Regions from separate parts of the Homo sapiens genome. Here region 2 is linked to region 1. The links come from fine-mapping of genetic effects on gene expression. A gene starts in region 1. The other region holds a variant in brackets. All regions are shown on one strand. Distances are from middle to middle.

Region 1 (5,376 bases):
TAGCTTTGTTAACAAAAGTGCAGTACATCAAGGAAAGTAACTAATTTCCTTCAGTCCTCTGCCCCGTCTGGGCATTTTCATACAGACTAGTCTACTCTAAACACACTGTTGTATAGAGAATACAGATGTTTTCACAAAAGAGGTAACGCAAAACCAGAGTTTTGACAGAGTACGAAGAGACAGAGGGAATAGGACGTACAAAGGTGACGATGTACATTTGGGGAATTACAATGGCCCTATGTGGCATGAATCAAAGGAATGAATGGGGGACATGAACTGCACTGGATGGGAGTGGAGGAGACTGTGACAGTATCGAAACCAGGAGTCTTCAAGATTTCTGATCCTATGTTTCCTAAAAGAATTTTGAAAAACTACCCTTTCACAAATTCTTAATATCTAAAATATCAAATAGTTTAAATTGTTAAAAAGGCTATAATTTCCAGCATATTTAAAATACTGACATTTTAAAATAAGCTGTCACATCACTCTTTAAATTGTTTTCAGTAGAATCTAAATTAATAGTAAGTTGATAACTACCTACATCATCTATTTAAAAATTACAAGAACTATAAATTCAAGTAGATGAAAAACAACTTTTCGTCAAAGGGCACTCCAAAATAATGTAAAAAAGACAAGCCTGAGTGGGAGAAGCTAAAGGACACACACAAATGAAAAACAAAAACAAAACAAAAAATACTCTAAATAAATAAGACAAACAATCCAATAGGAAAATGGGCAAAATATTTAAGTGGATATTTCATAAAGGAAATTCAAAAGGCCAATAAAAATGTGAAACACACTATAGCTTGTTATTAATCAGAGAAATGCTTATTTAAATCTCAATGAGATACCATTACAAAGCCACCAGATTAACAAAAATTTGTAGGTCTGACAATATCTATTGACAATATCAATATCAGGTGTTGGTGAGGATGTGGGGCCTCAACAGTTTGGCAATATCAGGCAATGCTGAATATATACATATTCTCTGACCAGGCAATTCCACAGCGATTTTCACACATACCCACATCCTCAGAAACAATTGGACTCATGCGCCAGGATGAGATCAATCAGCTTTGTACATAATTGCCCCAAACTGGAAATGGAGAATTGTGGCACAGTCATATAATATTATACAGCAGGCCGGGCAGGGTGGCTCACACCCGTAATCCCAGCACTTTGGGAGGTCGAGGCGGGCGGATCACCTGAGGTCAGGAGTTCCAGACTAGCCTGACCAACATGGAGAAACCCCAACTCTACTAAAAATACAAAATTAGCTGGGCGTGGTGGCGCATGCCTGTAATCCCAGCTACTCCAAGGGAATCACTTAAACCTGGGAGGAGGAGGTTGCAGTGAGCCCAGATCGTGCCATTGCACTCCAGCCTGGGCAACAAGAGAGAAACTCCGTCTCAAAAAAAAAAAAAGAATTATATAGCAATGAGAAAGCATTACAGCTACGCAAAATGAATGAATGAATCTCACAATGTAAAAGAAGATACTAAAGCGTATATACTGTATGAACCAATTCATGTGAAGTTCAAAACCAGGCAAAACTATGTTCTTGAGATGCACATATGGATGCTAAAACTACTATAGGAAAAATAGGCAACCTAATAGTAACTATAAAAATGAGAACAGTGTTTATATCTGGGGGGGAAGTAGAGAATTTTGATACATAGGGGAGAGGAGGCTTCTGGTAGTGCACTGTTTTGACCTGAGTGTTAAACAGGTGTTTGCTTTAGAACTGTTAAATCATTCATGCATACTATATAAAATTTTCTTCATATGTATTATATTTCGCGAACACAAAAAATACTCCACATAAAAAAAGCTTTTCTCTAACGGTAAAATTTACATCGCTGCATTTTCTTGACTGATCTCGTATATTCTCCCACAAAATGTTATCCTAACAATATATTTTGTGTGAAAGTAACTTACTGAGCATCCTATGGTATTTGGATGATTTTTAACTTTTTGCAAAAAGTACTTAACGTCACGGCAACTTAATTTAGTCGCCTTTACTTCTGCTATCTCTCAGTCAAGAAGTCCTCATACCAGCCCTTGTGCCGGGGGCTGTAGTTAAAAATTAAATTAGCCTTCAAGCTTACCATGTGTCAGGCACTGCCCAAAACGCTTTACGTGCATTATCTCATTTAATCCCCAGGTAGGTGGTTATGACCCCCATTTTAGAGGTGTAGAATCTTAAGTTAGGAGACATTAATTCTCAAGGTTAAAGGTCGTGAATGGCAGGTCGTAGCCTCTAAATCAGAAAGTTAGGTGAGACTTTTTGGTTTCCCTCGCCCCCTCCGTTCCAGTTTCTCTGGCTTCTTTTCTAGGGAAAAAAAGCTGGTAAGGAAGCGGCAAATGCGTGACACACAGGCCCGCGTGAGTCCGAGTCGGGGGACTTGGTACGGGCTGCCGGTCACACCGCCCCAGAGAAAATTGGGCGCAACCTTCTTAACTTAAATAATGACCCTTTTTGCTTGTTAACCTCCAGTCTAAACGCCCATTCCATCCCGCACCAGTTTCCCCTTCTGTGAAGGCATGCATGGAGTATGTCGCTCTCCACTGACCTGAAGCTGCTCTCACTGCACCAGCAAAGGCAGAGGCAGCCATCTTCACCTTCGCCTACGGCGGCCGCTTTGGGTTTAAAAGCACAAGAGCAAAAGAGAATGAAGGGAAAGCAAGGAGGCGGAGTCAAGGAAGAGGAAAAGAACAAAGTTGTCCACTCAACATTTATTCAATGTCATCTGCCGGGTTCCGTTCTTCGCCGCTGTAAAACGACTGCCTATAGAAGGTTCTACAAAATTTCTTATTAAAAAAAATTCTTGGGGCCGGGCACGGTGGCTCACGCCTGTAATCCCAGCACTTTGGGAGGCCGCGGCGGGCGGATCACAAGGTCAGGAGTTCGAGACCAGCCTGGCCAACATGATGAAACCCCCGTCTGTACTAAAAATACAAAAAGTAGCCGGGCTTGGGAGGCTGAGGCAGGAGAATCGCTTGAAACCGGAAGGCGGAGGTTGCAGTGAGCAGAGATCGTGCCACTGAACTCCAGTCTGGGCGAAAGAGCGAAACTCCATCTCAAAAAAAAAAAAAAAATTCTTGCCGGGCGCGGTGGCTCACGCCTGTAATCCCAGCACTTTGGGCGGCCGAGGCGGGCAGATCACGAGGTCAGGAGATTGAGACCATCCTGGCTAACAGGGTGAAACCCCGTCTCTACTAAGGGGTACAAAAAATTAGCCGGGCGTGGTGGCGCGCGCCTGTAGTTCCAGCTATTCGGGAGGCTGAGGCAGGAGAATCGCTTGAACTTGGGAGGCGGTTGTTGCAGCAAGCCAAGATTGAGCCACCGCACTCCAGCCTGGGGTACAGAGCAAGATATAGGGTGTATTACCTTGGAACACTATTGTTGCCAACTTGATCTCCCACCTATGGTGGCCACTTTGAGTCCAAAAACAGGCACATACGCTAGACAAGTATATTGAAACATTCATAAAAGCTCTTTGAATTGGCAACGGGAGTCATTGCGCACTTTTTTTTTTTTTTGAGACTAGGTCTTGGTCTGTTGCGAAGGCTTGAGTGCAGTGGTGCGATCACAGCTCACTGCAGCCTCGACCTCCTAGGCTCAAGCAATCCTCCCACCTAAGCCTCCTGAGTAGCTGAGACTACAGGCACACACCTGGCTAATTTTTAAATTTTTTGTAGAGACCTAGGTCTCACTATGTTGCCCAGGGTGGTCTCAATTATTTGGTATGGAATCAAACAGGTCTCCCACCTTGGCCTCCCAAAGTGCTGGGATTACAGGTGTGAGCCACTGAGCCTGGCCTCACTGCACATTTTTGAACAAGTGAGTGACTTGATTTAAATTTTGTTTTTTAGAGACAGGGTCTGAGTGCAGTGGTGCAATCACTGCAGCCTGGAATTCCTGAGCTCAAGGGATCCTCCCACCACAGCCTTCCAAGTAGCTGGCACCACAGGCATGCACAATCATCCCCTGCTAATTTAAAAAAATTGTTTATAGAGATGAGGTTTCACTTTTTTTTTTTTTTTTTTTTTTTTTTTTTTTTTTGGAGACAGACTCTCGCTCTGTTGCCCAGGCTGGAGTGCAGTGGTGCGATCTTGGCTCTCTGCAAGCTCCGCCTCCCGGGTTCACACCATTCTCCGCCTCAGCCTCCCAAGTAGCTGGGACTACAGGTGCCTGCCACCACACCCAGCTAATTTTTTGTATTATTATTATTTTTTTTAGTAGAGACGGGGTTTCACCGTGTTAGCCAGGATGGTCTCGATCTCCCGACCTCATGATCCGCCCGCCTCGGCCTCCCAAAGTGCTGGGAGAGGTCTCACTCTTTTGCTCAGGCAGGTCTCAAACTCCTGGGCTCAAGTGATCCTCCCACCTCAGTCTGCCAAAATGCCGGGATATGAGCCACCACACCCAGCCCCTGGTAACAAATTTTTTTTTTTTGAGACGGAGTTTCGCTTTGTCCCCCAGGCTGGAGTGCAGTGGTGTGATCTTGGCTCACTGCAACCTCTGCTTCCCAGGTTCAAGTGATTCTCCTTCTTCAGCTTCCCACATAGCTGGGATTACAGGCGCGCACCACCAAGCCTAGCTAATTTTTGTATTTTTAGTAGAGACGGGGTTTCACCATGTTGGCCAGGCTGGTCTCGAATTCCTGACCTCAGGTGATCCGCCCGCGTCAGCCTCCCAAAGTGCTGGGATTACAGGTGTGAGCCACAGCGCCTGGCCTGCCTGATAACATTTTAAAGCAAAAATATTGACAACTTCCAAGTGGAGAGTGAGGACTCTCCACGTAGGTTATGAGGGGTTGGGAGGCTAATTTTGAGGTTTGAGATCTTGAAGCTAGAGAGGTTGCTAATGATGTTCAGGCGCAAGTTGTGGCTGTGACGTACATGACTGAAGCAGGATGAAAACATTCACTGGCATTGACAAATTCAAAGCCAAGGGTGTTAGAAAAGTCATCACACGGGCACCACATGACTGAAGCAGGATGAAAGCGTTCACTGGCATTAAGAAGTTCAAAGACAAGGGTGTTAGAAAAGTCATCACACCGGCACCACTGGGCATGACAGCAGTGGGCAGGGAGGCAGCAATTCAATTGCTAAAATTACTAAAGAAAACGGGAGACTGCTCTGGAAGCTAAGTGAAAGAGATATGAAACATATGTAATTACTGTAGTCCCCTAAAAACCATAGAACATAGAACATATACAAACATAACTATTGCTTTCAGATAATTTTCAAGTCCATCTCTCCATGCTACAAGTCATAGCGCAGTCTACCTCTAGAGAGAATACATATTGTAATAAATTACCCAGTTAAGACTTGGAATACTTTGCAAATCCAATAGAAGATAGAAAAGTT
Region 2 (5,376 bases), 22 kb before region 1:
CTCAGGTCTGCATGCAAGGAACCCTTTGATGATTGGCCTACACCATTCCCTCTGAGGCCTTGGGAAAGCCCCTGCACTCTGCAGGCCTCAGTCTCCCCCTCCATGAGGTGTCCCTTGGTCCTCCCAGCTCTGACAGTCTCTACTGGATTGTGCAGTGGTGGCAGATGGTGTTGGGGGAGGTCTGTCTTGCACCTGGGGCTATAGGCTGACTCTTAAGCAGTAAGAGGATTTCACAGTTGTCGGGGACACTTTCCTCCTGGTCCCCTGAAATGTTGTCACAAGGGGTGCTCACTCAGGCCAAAGCCTGGGAAGATTCAAATTACCTCTGGGGCCATGCAGAGCCCCAGGATCCCTCAGCAGACAGGAACATTTTCTAGGAGTTGTAAATTCAGGTCTTAATTCATGATGGGGGTAGGGAAAGGAGGCATTTCGGAGGCTGCTAAGTGCCTTTTAGGGCAGTGACAGAGCTTAGAGGCCCCAGGGGCAGCAGCCTCTATTCTAAGCTGCACATCTCAGATGCCAGAACATTCTTTTCCCATCTTTGCTCTGTTCCTGCCCCATTTGTCAACTGATTCCCTATTGTTTTCTGCATGTCTTTGTCTCTCTTTTTCTGTGTGTCTATTATTATCTCTCTCTCTCTTTTTTTTTTTCTCTGCCTACCTCTATGTCATATAGAACTGAACTCTGGATTACTGCCTGTGTGGTTAGTCATAGAGGTGTCCCTCCCCCCCTTTTAAAATCAAGCATGTAGGACATAATTTTTAAAAGCAGTCATCCTTTTTGTCCTCTCAGAGAGAGAGAGAGAGAGAGAGAGAGAATTGCATTTTGAGTGTGGCCTCTGGGCAGTGTCCTTCTGATTATAGCAGGAGGAGCTGCCTGAGGTTTAGAGCATGGGAAGTGAGTGAGCATGTGTGTGTCTACATGTGTGTATGTGAGTGTGTCTGTGTGTGAGTGTGTGTGGATGGGGATGTGTGCATGGTGCACACGTGTGAGTTTTAGTGCCAAAGACCCTTCTCTAACGGAATGTTCTTTTCTCTCTCCTCGGTGCTGTTGGGGACGTGGATGTAAGTGTTCCAGACAGGCGTGCTCTTCTGCAGACATTTGCTGCCTTCCATTAATGCTCCCGCTAATGTGTGCTGTGTGGGATGTTTTTGCTAACCTGGGGGAGGTTCTGCTGCACTGCAGGGGTGCGGCAGCCCTGGGCCCACTGCAGGCTACACAGGCCTTTAAAGGGCTGAGAGGCTCTGCCAGTTTCTCCCTCCCTCCCTTCCCCACAGAGAGAAGAGGTGGAGCCTGCAGCCCTGGCTGCTGTAGCCCTGCTGACACATTTGCTAATACAGAAACATCAGCCAAGGCCACACACCCATTCCCCTGCTGTGGAAGACGGCAGAAACCCTGCCCTTTCCTAGAAGCAACCCAGCTTTGGGCATCATAGTGGCAGCTCTGCAGGCTCAAGGCCGTGGCCACCATCACCTGAGGTTTGCAAGTTGTTATGGCCATGACCTTGGGCGGGAGACCCTCCTCCCACACACATTGTCTCTGGGAGCCAATTAGAGTACTAAGATGTGGATAGCAATACTCTTTCAGGCCTGTTGCCAGGGGTAAGGACCTGTTGGGTCACCAATCTTTAGATCTTCAGGGACAAGAACATGGAGGAGGCAGAGCATGGGATTTTCTACCCAGCTACTCACTCTCCTGCTCCTCCTGGTGCCCCTCTTTTGGGACTATGTTCTGTGGGGTTCATTTCTCCATTTATACTCCTTCCTGATATAAAAAGGAGTTAGGTCTACTTGTGGAAATATATCTAAAGTAGCAAATCAAAGTAAGAAAATTGAAGCATGGGGAGAAGGGAGTGGGCAAGTAAGATGGAATCAGTGGGGAGAAGGACATTTTAAATGCATACCATCAAGGTGTAGACTGTTGAGACACCTGGCTTCCTTGAAACCACTGCAAAGAGGGAAATACAATTATTAAGAGATTCAGTCCACTGTGCAACAGCCAGCTAGAGGCGTGGAAGCTTGTCTTATTTAGAATGTTTATTCTCACTGGTTCTGAGAGTAAGGCAAATATTATAGACAACACTCTTGGCAGAAATGCTCAGCGGACACAGTGACTAGGAGATGTCTTATCTTCTTAGGAGGTTCTCTCTGTAGCTTCTTCCTGAGGCTATTCTGGCTCCCTCACTGCCCACACTGGCCTCTTTTGCTCCCAGCCTCTGCTGAGCTGAGCACTTGTTTCTATTCCTGCTTGGATATCTGGGTTGTCCTTGAACCATCACTCCTACTGGGCTGGAGGGTCATTTCTTTTCTACCCTGCAATCCTTGCAGTGGAGAACATGCACAAAGCCATTTTGGTTTCAGTCCTGAGATTATAGTGATGATGGTGATTTTGGTAAGTGTGAGTTCATTGCTCAGCCTCAGTGAATCCAGACTGGATAACTAGCCTGGGTTGTTAGATGCCTGAGGATCTCACGGTGACTTTGGGCCACCTTCTGACACCCACAACCATCAGTACAGGGAAAGCCCTGGACCTGGATGTGGAGGGTACAGCATATGCAGAGGCACAGTCTCGAACCGGTACCCACCCCACTTCCATGTCATGGAGTTGGCTGCTGGGGTGGAGCTGGCCAGGCTGCTTCTGCAGTTTTTGCCTTGGTCTGAGGGCTTTTGGTCTTTTTTCCCTCCTGCCAGGCAGGAGGTATCTGTGTCCAGAAGGAATTTCCTGGTTTGGTTAATGGGGGTGTCAAGCTCTGACTTGGGACTAGAGCTGAGCTCTCTGAGATGACTTCAGGATTCTATTTAGTTTAGTTGATGAGTGGCCACTGTGTGCCCAGCCCTGGGTCAGGTGCTCAGAGAGACTGAGGGAGGATCAGCCATGGCCCCCCAGTCTCAGGATGCCTTCTGTTGGCTGAGGCAATGAGACTGACATGAGGACCAGGGCACCCAACACAAGCTGTGTGGCACAGCCTCCAAGCACTGTCGGGTCTCAGAGTGGGGAGGCCAGGGAGGGTCAGAGTATTCAGCGAGGGCTCCCTGGAGTCACTGGTCTTTGTGCTCAACAGGATGCAGCTGATTAGGACAGAGGAAGGGAGCAGAGGACAAACTAAGCCCAGAGTAAATAAGCTGAGGGAAGTGCAGAGTAGAAATAAAATAATAATAGTAATTTAAAAATCAAAGGAACATCAGTGATCTCAGGACTTTACTTACTAAGGCCCAGTCTGAACCAATCACACCCCAGCCTAAAATTCAGCTTTGCATGTTGTGCTGC[T/C]TCCTGCTGGCTGTTGGGGAGCACAGCAGTGGTAACTGGTAAAGCTGCCCAAGATTAGGGTTCAGTTGTCTGTTTTTTTACTCCACGCCTGGTGGTGGTATAGTCTAGCAAGTCCACTGTTGATGGAGAGAGAGCACATTCGGTGGCTGAATATGTTCTTAGGAGCAGGGTGTCTCAAGAAGAGCTGTGGTTTCTATCTGGAGGCCTCACGGTGATTGGACCAGATGACTTGAGAACCCCTTAGTCTTGCATTCTGTGATTCTAGGTAAAAACAATAGATGCAGCATAGAAAAATGTGTGTGTGTGATACCAGATAAGCTGGGTAGGGGCAGAAGATATTTTACATCTCAACTAAGAACCGCCTAGCAGATGACATGGAATATGTATTAGCATTTAACATTTAAAAAATACTGTGCGTTCAATGAGATGAATTAATTCTGAAGCTTTTCCCGCAGATGTATTCAAGGCAGACTGAAACAGGAATCTTGCTATCATTTTTTTTGGCAGAGGCATCTGTCAGATTCTCCTTCCTTAGGTTTCTCTGCTTCTCTAGGACTGGGCCTTCGCAAAAAAAAAAACAAACAAAAAAACTATATAGCTTTGTTTAAGGTTATCACTTAAGGCCTCCTGGCATTTTATATCCTGTCTCTTACAGGATGCTTGGAATTGAATATGCAAGTATAATATACAATGTCAACATGGCTTGTATGTACAACATAGAAACTGCTCTCCCACCCCACCCCACATCACTGCTGCCATCCTCTCTAGAGGAGATTCTTTCCCTGAGCATTCACCTGGTGTGGGATCACAGGACTGAGCTGCAGGGATTGATGTGTCTCAGTTAAAGCCGCTTCTTTCTTCACCCAGGGAAGTGATGCCCCCTTAGTAAATCTACTGAATTACTCAGAATTCAGTAGATTCTGAGTCTGTGGTTGTTTCTGTGCACAGTGCCTGGAGATTCACACAACTGCACTTTCACAATCCCAGATCCCCTGTAAGGAGGCCCCCAAAACATCAGTGCTTCCTCAGACCGAGGGGCCTCAGCTGTCCTCACAGGCCTGGTTTGCTGTGCTGTGTGCCTAACCTTGCCCTTCCCTGCTCCCTGCACTGATGCTTCCTTGCTATACCTTGTCTCATCTGTGTAGATTGTAAATGGACATTAAGTGGTTGAGGGAGATGTGAATGAGGGTGGTATGAAGGCATGGGAGCCCCACCAGGTCCAAAACCCATTGGCGTTTTCTGACGACGAGGAGGAAGACCTGCTGGATTTCATGTACAAGTATAAAGCACCTCGAAGGATGGAATTGCCCCTGGAGGTACACAGTGTCTGGGGCTGTGGGTTGGAGTGTGTTTGTCCAAAGGCTATGCCCTGGAGATTGGGGGTCCTGGGAGCAGCATCTCTTGGGGCACCAACATCTCCTCAATACCTGGGGTGGAAAGATCTCCTTCCATCAAACAAGCAGAACCAGTCACTGGATAGCATCCAGCTACTTGCCAAGGAGAGGAAATCCTATTAATTTCATTTAGAAATAGGAGCGTGAGCCGGGTGCAGTGGCTTATGCCTGTAATCCCAGCACTTTGGGAGGCCGAGGCAGGTGGATCACCTGAGGTCAGGAGTTCGAGACCAGCCTGGCCAACATGGCAAAACCCCTTATCTACTGAAAATACAAAAATTAGCCGGGTGTAGTGGCGCGCACCTGTAGTCCCAGCTGCTTGGGAAACTGAGGCAGGAGACTCGCTTGAACCCAGGAGGAGGAGGTTGCAGTGAGACTGCACTGCTGCACTCCAGCCGGGATGACACAGCGAGACTCCTTCTCAAAAAAAAAAAAAAAAAGAAAAGAAAAACAAATAGGAGAGTGGTAAAGTATCTAGGTCTTTATTGTTTTGTTTTGGTTTTTCCAGGTATTAACAACTACCACTCTAAGTTGACGTACAAGTGAAAAACAACCCAAATTGACTGTTTTGGGGGAAGAAAACTCAGAATGTGTTATTTGAAAAGTTTTTATAAATAAGAACAAGGCTTGTTCATCGCTGTATCTCCAAGACACAGCATATAGTGCCTGGTATAAAGTAGCTATTCATGAAATGTTAGTGAAGGGGTATAGCCCT

Direction of the effects. Positions count from the first base shown, and alleles are read on the strand shown. Sizes are in standard deviations (SD) of each study's normalised expression.
For the expression in esophagus muscle of the gene that starts at base 2,650 in region 1, C is the low allele of the variant in region 2 and T is the other (moderate effect, 0.63 SD a copy in GTEx).

The links. PIP is the estimated chance that this variant, and not a neighbour inherited with it, causes the effect.
Region 2: its variant is fine-mapped to the expression of MRPL35 in esophagus muscle (GTEx, PIP above 0.99). The same link has a PIP of 0.9 or more in coronary artery, gastroesophageal junction, testis and tibial artery.

Annotation. Positions count from the first base shown.
Region 1 is chr2:86,196,731-86,202,106 of GRCh38, reverse strand. It overlaps MRPL35 (mitochondrial ribosomal protein L35), which reads right to left and starts at 2,650. Exons shown (of 4, transcript NM_016622.4): 1 at 2,574-2,650. The coding sequence starts at 2,616. RefSeq lists an enhancer at 2,562-2,831.
Region 2 is chr2:86,219,177-86,224,552 of GRCh38, reverse strand. It overlaps REEP1 (receptor accessory protein 1), which reads left to right. Exons shown (of 9, transcript NM_001371279.1): 8 at 4,432-4,583. Among named protein-coding and RNA genes, the nearest start is that of MRPL35, 22 kb to the right of the region's middle. The variant T/C (reference allele first, on the strand shown) is at 3,268.